3 linked regions of the Homo sapiens genome follow. The protein of the gene in region 3 interacts with the protein of the main gene of each other region in a pairwise test. Each region holds a gene or a part of one and is shown on either strand. Other genes may lie near its edges. The genes, in order: TRIM59, FCRL2 and ZDHHC22.

Region 1 (3,600 bases), on a different chromosome or scaffold from region 3:
AGACTGGGTAATTTATAAGGAAAAAGAGGTTTAATGGACTCACAGTTCCACATGGCTGGGGAGACCTCACAATCATGGCAGAAGGTGAAAGGCACGTCTCACATGGCGGCAGACAAGAAAAGAGAATGAGTGAAGCAAAAGGGGTTTCCTCTTACAAAACCATCAGATCTCGTGATACTACAAGAACAGTATGGGGGAACTGCCCCCATGACTAAAGTTATCTACCGCTGAGTCCCTCCCACAACATGTGGGAATTATGGGAGCTACAATTCAAGATGAGATTTGGGTGGAGACACAGCCAAACCATATCACATAGCAACAAATTTAAATAACTTAAATTTGAAGCATTTTACTACAAATTAATGATAATTGCTTTGTTTGGGATGATTTTGGTCCCTAAGGAATAAACTCTTAATTGTGATCAGTTATTCACTATATATACTAGGAAATGAATTACTCAGAAAACTTCATTTTAAAAATACCTTGTTCTCTTTTAAATGACAAGCAGTATGGTAACAATTTGGAGGTTAATGCCTAGAATGTTAAATAATATGTACAGGTGTCTCTATGTAAACTTAAAATACATTTTTCTCTTGACAGGAAATGCACAATTTTGAGGAAGAGTTAACTTGTCCCATATGTTATAGTATTTTTGAAGATCCTCGTGTACTGCCATGCTCTCATACATTTTGTAGAAATTGTTTGGAAAACATTCTTCAGGCATCTGGTAACTTTTATATATGGAGACCTTTACGAATTCCACTCAAGTGCCCTAATTGCAGAAGTATTACTGAAATTGCTCCAACTGGCATTGAATCTTTACCTGTTAATTTTGCACTAAGGGCTATTATTGAAAAGTACCAGCAAGAAGACCATCCAGATATTGTCACCTGCCCTGAACATTACAGGCAACCATTAAATGTTTACTGTCTATTAGATAAAAAATTAGTTTGTGGTCATTGCCTTACCATAGGTCAACATCATGGTCATCCTATAGATGACCTTCAAAGTGCCTATTTGAAAGAAAAGGACACTCCTCAAAAACTGCTTGAACAGTTGACTGACACACACTGGACAGATCTTACCCATCTTATTGAAAAGCTGAAAGAACAAAAATCTCATTCTGAGAAAATGATCCAAGGCGATAAGGAAGCTGTTCTCCAGTATTTTAAGGAGCTTAATGATACATTAGAACAGAAAAAAAAAAGTTTCCTAACGGCTCTCTGTGATGTTGGCAATCTAATTAATCAAGAATATACTCCACAAATTGAAAGAATGAAGGAAATACGAGAGCAGCAGCTTGAATTAATGGCACTGACAATATCTTTACAAGAAGAGTCTCCACTTAAATTTCTTGAAAAAGTTGATGATGTACGCCAGCATGTACAGATCTTGAAACAAAGACCACTTCCTGAGGTTCAACCCGTTGAAATTTATCCTCGAGTAAGCAAAATATTGAAAGAAGAATGGAGCAGAACAGAAATTGGACAAATTAAGAACGTTCTCATTCCCAAAATGAAAATTTCTCCAAAAAGGATGTCATGTTCCTGGCCTGGTAAGGATGAAAAGGAAGTTGAATTTTTAAAAATTTTAAACATTGTTGTAGTTACATTAATTTCAGTAATACTGATGTCGATACTCTTTTTCAACCAACACATCATAACCTTTTTAAGTGAAATCACTTTAATATGGTTTTCTGAAGCCTCTCTATCTGTTTACCAAAGTTTATCTAACAGTCTGCATAAGGTAAAGAATATACTGTGTCACATTTTCTATTTGTTGAAGGAATTTGTGTGGAAAATAGTTTCCCATTGAAAATGTCAACCTGAATTGTTTAAATGGGCTTATTCTGTACATTGCTAAACAAAAAATGGGGTAGCATGGATAAAGAGCAAACTAAGCTTTATTAGTGCTGCAACTAATATAAACAAATGTTTATATTTGTTGCTTCTTTTGGTTAGCAATGATATGTCAAAGTTATATCTGAAATAGTCAAATCTTTGGGAAACAGAATCTAGTAACAATTTGAAAAGTAATACACTATCCCATTTTTATTGGCTTTATGATGGTTGACATAATGTTGCTGTGACATTTAAACATTCTTGTACCAATATTGTCTTTTACCATTATTATATACTGCAGTTAATTGGCTTTACAGTTCTTTATATATATAGCAAAATCCTGAAAGAACATATACCTTTATTTTGATGTGGCTTGAAGCTTTTGAATGGGTGAATAAGGATGATAGAAAGGTTTCAAAATCAAGCAACAAAGTCTTAAAGTGATAAGGCATGGCTTAAAGATCTTTTGATCAAACATACCTGTGTTTGAGATAGATTTAAGAGCCCTAAATGCTTATCACCATTCACTCCAAATAAAACTATTGCTTTTGGATAACTGTTAGAGTAAAGTGGCTTTTTAAAAGAAATTTTTGAGACTGGGTCTCACCTTGTTGCCCAGGCTGGAGTGTAGTTGTCTGGTCATGACTCACTGCAGTTTCGACCACCCAGGCTCAATCGATCCTCCCGCCTCTGCCTCTGGAGCAGCTGGGACAAGGCACACACCCCCATGCCTGGCTAATTAAAAAAATTGTTTTTTGTAGAAACGAGGTTTTGCCATATTGCCCAGGTTGGTCTCAAACTTCTGGGCTCAAGAGATCTGCCCACCTTGGCCTCCCAAAGTGCTGGGATTACAGACGTTAGCCACACTGTGCCTGGGGGCCAGCATTTTCTAATACTTGTCATATTCTATAGTTTGTGCAAATTTAAGATTGTTTTTTTTTCTGCTCGTCAGTCAAATCAGTTCTTGGATTAAAAACTCATTCTTATTAGAACAGAATCATGTTGGTAACTTGGTCTGCAACAGGTTTTGATGGCATCATGTGGACTTTATTCATCTTAACTCATTTAAATTTTCTACCACATTCCCTTAAGCTAATGCAAAAGTACCAACAACTTAATCTTTTTTTTTTTTTTTTTTTTTTTTTTTTGAGACGGAGTCTTGCTCTGTCGCCCAGGCTGGAGTGCAGTGGCGTGATCTCGGCTCATTGCAAGCCCCGCCTCCCGGGTTCACACCATTCTCCTGCCTCAGCCTCCCGAGTAGCTGGGACTACAGGCATCTGCTACCACGCCCAGCTAATTTTCTGTATTTTTAGTAGAGATGGGGTTTCACTGTGTTAGCCAGGATGGTCTCTATCTCCTGACCTCATGATCCACTCGCCTCAGCCTCCCAAAATGCTGGGATTATAGGCGTGAGCCGCCACGCCCGGCCCAACAACTTAATCTTTTATTAGCTTTGCTTAAGAGGGCCAATTAAATCAAAGCCCTTTAGTTCCCTTTAACAGGGACTGGAGTTATGATGCATGTGTTACGACTTTTGGCCCACTGTCCATGCAACTCTAAGTGCAGGTTGATTTGCTTTCCAGAAATCCCAAAGGGGCTGCTCTTGGATCACCGAAGAGCCTTACCTATATCAAATCAAAAAGACATTCTGGGTCAGATTAGACTATGCTCCTGGCCCTACAGATTGCACATAAACTATCATAAATACAGCTTTTTCAGGGAACTAGTTCTAAAACTCTTACCTGCTGAGAATAAGTCT
Region 2 (3,828 bases), on a different chromosome or scaffold from region 3:
GATTTAACTCAGAAAGAGTGAAATAAAATTAGCTTTATTTCACTCTTTATGATTAGAACAGTAATACATGCATTTTTAAAAAATCAAAACTAAATACTAAATCTAGAGCACGGGTTGGCAAATTATGGCCTGTGAGCTGGCCAACACTGTTTTGGTAAATAAAATGTTATTGGAACACAGCCATCCTCATTCGTTTACATATGGTCTATGGTTGTTTTCCTGCTACCACAGCAATGGCATTGAGTAGTTACGGCACACACCTGAAAAGCTTAGCCTATTTACTCTCTTGCCTTTTACAGGAAAAGCTTGCTGATTCCTGAGCTAGAGCTAGAGAAGCAATGAGGACACATGTTTATTCTGACCCTGCAGAAGTTTGTAGTTCTGACACATTCCTCTATAAATAGCTGTTTTCAGAGCTGTAAAAACATTCAGCATTCAGCCAGACAATAAAGAGGCATTACAGTCCTATGGGCAGGAAAACAATTCTCTCCAAATTGTTCTTTTCTTCAATCTGCATGTTATTGCCCTTCTTAAAGCCAGGCTTTTAAGGAAGAGGCAAGCATGTGGGGTCTTGAGAAGGCTAGGTGGTACCTGGTCACCCAGACATGCAAGTGGTGTTGGAAACAGGCTGCGTGACCTCAGAACATGTCAGCCTAGAGGGCAGTAATATTAGGACATCTTCACAGGCTTTCCAGAGCCACCTCTATAGAATCCTGGGGTAGTGGGGTGACTGATATGCCAGAGACCAAGAACAACAAAGACAAGGAGGACTCACCTGCCTGTTCAGTGACTGCATCTGTGAGGAGATCAAAAGCCAGAGATTAGCACACAGCATTTGCCCTCATAATTTATAAATTTATATTACTCTGGTAAATTGCTCAAAAACTTCTTTCCATTTTCCCTTTCTTTTCTATTTCCCTAATCTCTTATTACTAACAATTCAATCTCCCTCGAGCACACATCTAACTGTCATTCATTGTAGTCAAAAGGCAAGTTGCAAACCCAATGCTTGACTAAAGGGATTGTCGAGAATACCCATGTTGGATATTTAGTGACTCTCCTTGATTTCATTTTCCTTCCACCATCCCCACCACTCTATCTCACACTCTGACTTTTCAAGTGGTAGATAGACATGACAACACGATCACAAAGGGCTCATCAGGAAACATACATTGTGAGAGTTCCAAGAAATCAACAAATCAGTCTCTTTCCTATGGCCATATTTCACGTTAGAGCCCTTTGTATTCCAATAACAAATATTTATTTAGTGCCTACACAGCATAGAGAAAGGGATCTTATTTACTCTCTCACCCAGGCTGGAGTACAATGGTGCGATCTTGGCTCACCACAACCTCCACCTCCCGGGTTCAAGCAATTCTCCTGCCTCAGCTTCCCGAGTAGCTGGAATTACAGGTGCCCACCACCACGCCTGGCTAATTTTTGTATTTTTAGTAGAGATGAGGTTTCACCATGTTGGCCGGGGTGGTCTCGAACTCTGACCTCAAGTGATCCACCAGCCTTGGACTCCCAAAGTGCTAGGATTACAGGTATGAGCCACTGCACTCACCCAGGAATCTTATTTTCTAGCAGCAGCTGTCATCTCCCTCATTGTCCACGATTAAACAGAGGAATATTAGCAAAGGGTCTCAATGCATCTGCTGAACCCAAATCTTATAGATAACAATTGAATAATCGGTGTTCATGGAGGAGAAGGGCATTGCTAAATGCTAATATTATGAACATTTTACTATGAGAACATTATATTACTCAATGAGATCTAAGATATCAAAATAGCAATTCATGACCAGCAAATGGAAAAGTGGTCCACCTTGAACATTAAGCATTGTGCTTAATGCTTAATGGATGTGCTGCAAATTCACTGTCCTCAGCCTACTTCTTTGCATCTGCCTTTGAAGCCCAAGCTGCAGGCAGGACCTGAGCATCCCCACCAGTCCCTGGGCTCCAATAAAACCTCCAACCTTTTGGGAGCAGTAGACCTCATTCAGCTGCCACCTCACTTCTCAGTCAAATTATTGAACTCACCAAAGATGACCAGCAATGACCACAGCAGCATGAGGACCTAATCCAGCTATTTGAAAAGAGATGTACTCTTGGTCACCAACTGGAGACTCTGAGCAGGCGATGAAATGTGGTTTTCAGAATAGGTTTTGTATAATTAGCAAAAAAGGAAGTAGAATAGTGCCACTATGTTTAACCATTATCTTTGTCCTGGAAGGGCTAAAACAATTATAGCTGATCCTCTCAATGCCAGAGAAATTTTGTAACTTGACCCTCATTATGATACCTAGCATTTACATATGGGTTGCAATGAGTCAGACACAGTTCTAAGTGCCTCATGCTTACAGAGTTATTTATTACCTTCAGCAAGTTTCTGAATTGGCACTATCCCCTTTCACATGAATAAGGAAATTGAGGCACTAGTAAAGGTAAGTGTCTTAGTCCATTGGGGCTGCTATAAAGAATACCTTAGACTGAGAAATTTATAAACAACATAAATTTATCACTCATAGTTCAAGAGGCTGGGAAGTTTAAGATCAAGGCACCAGTAGATTCAGTGTCTGATGAGGGCCTGTTTCTCATAGATGGTGTCCTCTATGTGTCTTCACATGATGGAAGGAGCAAACAAGCTCCCTCAAGCCTCTTTTACAAGGAGACTAATCCTTTTCATAAGAGTTCCACACTCATGACCCCTAAAAGGTCATGTAATAAAAGGTGGGTACCTTTTATTACTATTGCATTGAGGATTAAGTATCAACATAAGAATTTTGCCAGGACACAAACATTCAGATGATAGCAGCCAGTAAAATGACCAAGATCAGCTTAATCAATTTCTAGTAGTAACAGATCTGGGATTCAAACCCAGGCAGCCCAGTGTCACAGTCTGGCTCTTAAACATTGTGCCCTATTATCTTGATATATTGCTTCTCAAGGTTCATAAAATAATAAGGCCATTGTTTCAATAGCTCATATTTCTTAAGTAAAATTTTTCGTAGTCATTCGATGACTTTCTAGAATGAGATTTTACTAAACTTCAAAACACTTGCACTATATTGCTGAAAACATTGCCATCTTTCTAATCTGTAATCACAACATTGCCTATTTCTAATCTGCATTGCTTTTTGTACCCCAGGCTGATCCTAATACAGTTATCTCACACAAAGCAAAGCGCGTGTTATGTGAACACCTATTATCATGCTCACTTTGATTAGATGTAGTCCCAGTAGATGTTGTCTCATCAGTGAACCTTATGCAGGATGAAACTCTAAACCAAAAAATCACAGGTGCTTATAAATGAGGGACTGACTGAAAATATTCATAGACTCAATGTTACCTGTTCAGGTACTTAACATTTACCTGAATACTTAACATTGAATTTTTAACAATTGGATACTTAACATTTTATTCTCACTATTATCATAGTTTTACTTTGAGAAAGGCTAATATTTATATGTGATGGTCATTAAAGCCTTGCTTATAATAATGTAAAAAGAAAATACTAAAAATATATCACAAGGAGAGATGTGTGTTAAAAATAAGTTATGTGTCAAATGCTGTGGAAAACCAAACAGCCATTAAAATAATTCTGTGGAATAATATTTAATAGCAAGATAAGATGTCTAGGATATATGATTAAGAAAAAAGTGGGCTGGGTGCGGTGGCTCACGCCTGTAATCTCAGCACTTTGGGAGGCTGAGGCGGGCGGATCACGAGGTCAGGAGATCAAGACCATCCTGGCTAACACGGTGAAACCCCATCTCAACTAAAAATACAAAAAATTAGCCGGGCGTGGTGGCAGGTGCCTGTAGT
Region 3 (3,828 bases):
AGGTTAAATGACTAGCAGCTCATGGTCACACAGCTGGTAAATGGCAATAAAATGCTCATTCTTAGTCTGCTTGACTCTCATAGGGCCAGAATCCAAGTGAAGTTTTCATATTGATTTTGCCTCCCTATTGATTTTGTCAGGGATAAGCATAAGTTTTAGAAAAACAAAATGACATTTGCCGTGCTTCCCTTCACTCCATTCCTTAAGGGGAGCTGAGGAACCACTAGCTTTAGATCTGAAGCTGTAATGTCCTTTTCTGTTGATAAACGATATTTCTAAATAAATAATCGTCCTTGTCCATTTGTGTTTCCACGACCAGATCTCCTTTTCCTGACTGAATACTCCCTTCCCCCACTAACATCTTCCCACGTTCGCTTAGCTTCTTTCTCTCTTTCCCTTTCCTCATACACACAGATTCAGACACACACCTTCCCACCTCACACCCATATGCAAAATAAAATTAGAAATACCACCCGACTCACAAGGTATTTGGGGAATGGAGATCTTCAGTCAGTATACCCAAACCCAAGCACCCCAGCCAGCCTCCCTCCCTGCCAAGCCCATGTGAGAGGCAGACAGAGCTTGTGAAAAGGGGCCCAGACGGCCACGATTATGAGACAAAGCTGCTCTGAAGGGAAAAGGGCCATGTGTGCCTCCCCATGTCTGTCCTGTGGCCACTGGAACTCACAAGGCTACCAGCTGCTCACGGCCACCATGTGGCATATACTGTTCTTTCACTTACATGTCAGATCCTTTTAGAATGTGAAAAGGTTTCCTGGCCTCTTTTTTATTTTGATGTATGCTGATAAATTACAGAGGAAACAGTGTGTGGTTATTCAAGAATAGAGGCTGAGCTGATCAGCATATGGCCCTCATTTCAAGGGATTGCTCTTGTTTTAATCAGCCAGTTGAGAAAGCAATAAATGTTTATTTATTAAGTATGCCATCACCGAGAGGAGAGGAACAGGGCAGGTAGGTGAGCTGCGACACCCAGGAAATTGAGGATGGTGATGGCACCAATATTCCTGCAGTGTTTGATGTTTTTAAGGCTCTGCTCCCCCCACCCCCCACTGTTTGATACACATTGGTGTCACTACCCTCTTGGCGCATCACAGTACCCACCTTAGAATAGCGGAGCCCTGGAAGGGGAAGGAAATAGAAATAAGAAGGTGGGGGTGAGGCTCAAAGAAGAAGCTCCAAGTTCAAGCTCTGTGTCTGGATAAACTCCCATTGTCTTTCCTTCTCTCAAATCAGAGCTGCCCGTGGGTCCCAGGGTGATGCTGGGCTGTGTAGAGGCTGAGTGCAGGAGCATTAATGCTAGAACCAGGTTCAAGTCCAGGCTCTGTCACTTAATGGCTGTATGACCTTAGACATGAGACTTAGCTTCTCTGAGCTTCAACCTCCTCATCTCCAGAATGGGGCTCAGCCAGCTTCACAGATCAGGCTGAGAGGATTAAGGAAGCATCTTATGCTAAAGGCTTAGCACAATGCCTGCTACCTAGTAGGGGCCCGATAAGTAGTGTCTAATTATGATCTAATCAAGCAGTGCTTGCCCTGGGCAGGCCCTGTTTAAGGGTTTTACATAGATTGTCATTTAACCCTCATATCTCTATTTCACAGATGAGGAAACTGGAATCTAAGATCACACTGGAATTTACAGACGAAGAAACTGGAATCTGAGATCTCACAGTAGTGAATGGTGAATATTCAAACCCAGGTAGACAGGCTCCAGAGTCCCAACTCCCAACCCTCTGTACACAGCCCTTCCGAGGAGATGACGCTGATCTTCATGGGTGTTGCCCTGGCAAGCTGACCTCTCAAGCCCCCAGGGTTCCTTCAGTCCGAGTGGAGAGCAGGGAAGGTCGTGGGACCTAGCCGAGAGGGAAGGGCAGGATGATGGCTGGAGAATCCACATCAGGGCTGAATCCCAATCTCCCAGCTGGAACGGGCGCTGAAACCAGGCAGGGCGCCCCAGCCCGCTCAAGGGGAATCGAGAGGGGAGGAGGGGGCAAGTCCACGATGCTGAGACTGGCGGCCAGAGCACCGCCCCCAGGAGCGGAGGGAGGGGTGGCGGGGCTGGGGGGTGCCCAGCTGCCATCCCCGCCGCTTCCTGGCCCTTACTCGCTGGCGCCCAAGTGGGAAGCCAGCAGCTGCCCGCTCCCTCCTCCCCACATCCCCGCTACTTGCCCAGTTCCCGAAGCGAAGCGCAGGCTGCGAGCCAGCCGGGCCGAGTCCACAACTTTGCAGCCTCGGGCAGGGCGAGAGCCGGCGTCCGGGGCTCCTCTTGTCGGCGACCAGAGCTCGGTGAGTTGATTTCCTCACCCCTCTGCGACGGCGGCAGTGCGGCGGCGGCGGCGCGGGGGGCGGCTTCCCGTGCGTCCGGGAGGCAGTGGCCGAGAAGCCCGCGGCTGCCGGCGCTGCCGGTCTTTCCAAGGCTCCGGCTGTGCCGCCCTCTGCCGCGGGCGAGGCGGGCGCCAGGGCTGAACGGACAGCTCCCTACACCCCGGGGCCCCACGGGCGGTCTCTGCTGTCCCTTCTCCCGCGCAGGGCCAGGGCTGAGGCTGCCTGCCGAGCGCCCCTCACTCCCCTAGCCCCTGTCCTTCGCCGCCTTCCCAGCGCTGCGGCGCATCTGGCTGCTCCCGCGCCCCCCTGGCGACCGGCGCCGGGAAGGCACTTGCTTCGCCGGAGCCCCAGGCCGAGGGCTCTCTGGGGTGGGCAGCACCGCCGCAGCCCCCGGCGGCGCAGGACTGGGGGCGTGCCCAGCCCCCGGCGACCACCCTCAGGCGTGCACTGCGCTGCGCCCCAGCGGTAGGGAGAGGCCCACGCTCTCCGCGGAGGCTGCGGGTTCCCGGGGGGCGCTGGGACCTGCAAAGGGGATTCCAAGGTGACCAGTCGACCCGTGCGGACGGGACAGCCTGGACGGAGGCCCCGTGGCATCCACCCATCCTAGGTGCAACCGCCTTCCCAGAACTTTTCTCGCGCCTCCGGCTGGCCGATTCCTTAGCCCCTGGAAAAGTTCTCTCGGGCGCACGGAATCCTATTTCTCGGTGGCTTCCGAAGCTGGCCAGGAACCCCGGCTGTGAGGCGTGGGGTGGGATGGGGACGTGGTGAGGGCTGAGCACGGCGGCGGGGTCGATCCCAGGAAAGGCTGGCCAAGCATCCACTCGTGCGCCCAGGGCGGGCTTGTCGGCATGGAAAGGATTTCGGCGCCATGAGGGTTGTTTGGGTTTCTCTCAGCAGGAGGGCGGGAGGCGGGCGCGAAGGGGGGATTTTAATTTCGCCTCAAATGAAAACGCTCTTCGCAAAGAAATAGCCCGGGCAGCCAGCGTTGGAGAGATGTGCTGGCCAGGACCCGCTGACACAGGTATTCTGGTTGCGCCCCCACCTCACCCGGTGCCCGAGAGCGAGTGTGAGTGTATCGATTGTTTCAATTGATTTTTTTAAAGCTAGATAGCAGAGGCTGCGTGTCTGTACACGCAGATATATACATACACAAATACAGATACTCAAGCGCACACAGATTACACGTACAGAGTCACAGACAAGGACACACACACACACATCGTGGTCCCTCACGCACACATACCTCCAAAGAGCCTTGGGTAACCTGGTGAGGTCCCTGAGTGCTGCCCAAGATGTGTGTGTGGGTGGGGACGCAGGGACGGAGAAAGGGGAGTGTGAAGCAGGATTTCCAGCAGGTCAAGTGCCGCTGATTCTCCTGCCCCCGACCCCAAATCCTTCCCTTTCTCCTCCTAGGGAGGTCTGAACCAGAAATCCCAAACCTGGGCTTGTTTCCACATCCACAGAGGGGAGGAGTCCTATCCCCCG

Evidence for each region.
Region 1: the proteins of ZDHHC22 (region 3) and TRIM59 interact in binary tests that used the Homo sapiens proteins (3 or more experiments, as listed by UniProt).
Region 2: the proteins of ZDHHC22 (region 3) and FCRL2 interact in binary tests that used the Homo sapiens proteins (3 or more experiments, as listed by UniProt).

What each region holds. Positions count from the first base shown.
Region 1 is NC_000003.12:160,436,187-160,439,786, reverse strand, and holds part of TRIM59 (tripartite motif-containing protein 59), read left to right. Parts: intron 1-600; 5' UTR 601-603; coding exon 604-1,815; 3' UTR 1,816-3,600. UniProt on the Homo sapiens protein: E3 ubiquitin ligase involved in different processes such as development and immune response. Serves as a negative regulator for innate immune signaling pathways by suppressing RLR-induced activation of IRF3/7 and NF-kappa-B via interaction with adapter ECSIT.
Region 2 is NC_000001.11:157,775,000-157,778,827, forward strand, and holds the start of FCRL2 (Fc receptor-like protein 2 isoform 1 precursor), read right to left. Parts: upstream 2,134-3,828; 5' UTR 2,075-2,133; coding exon 2,044-2,074; intron 797-2,043; coding exon 776-796; intron 1-775. UniProt on the Homo sapiens protein: May have an regulatory role in normal and neoplastic B cell development.
Region 3 is NC_000014.9:77,140,079-77,143,906, reverse strand, and holds the start of ZDHHC22 (palmitoyltransferase ZDHHC22), read left to right. Parts: upstream 1-2,115; 5' UTR 2,116-2,304; intron 2,305-3,162; exon of another isoform or gene 3,163-3,364; intron 3,365-3,828. UniProt on the Homo sapiens protein: Palmitoyltransferase that could catalyze the addition of palmitate onto various protein substrates and be involved in a variety of cellular processes. Catalyzes the palmitoylation of KCNMA1, regulating localization of KCNMA1 to the plasma membrane.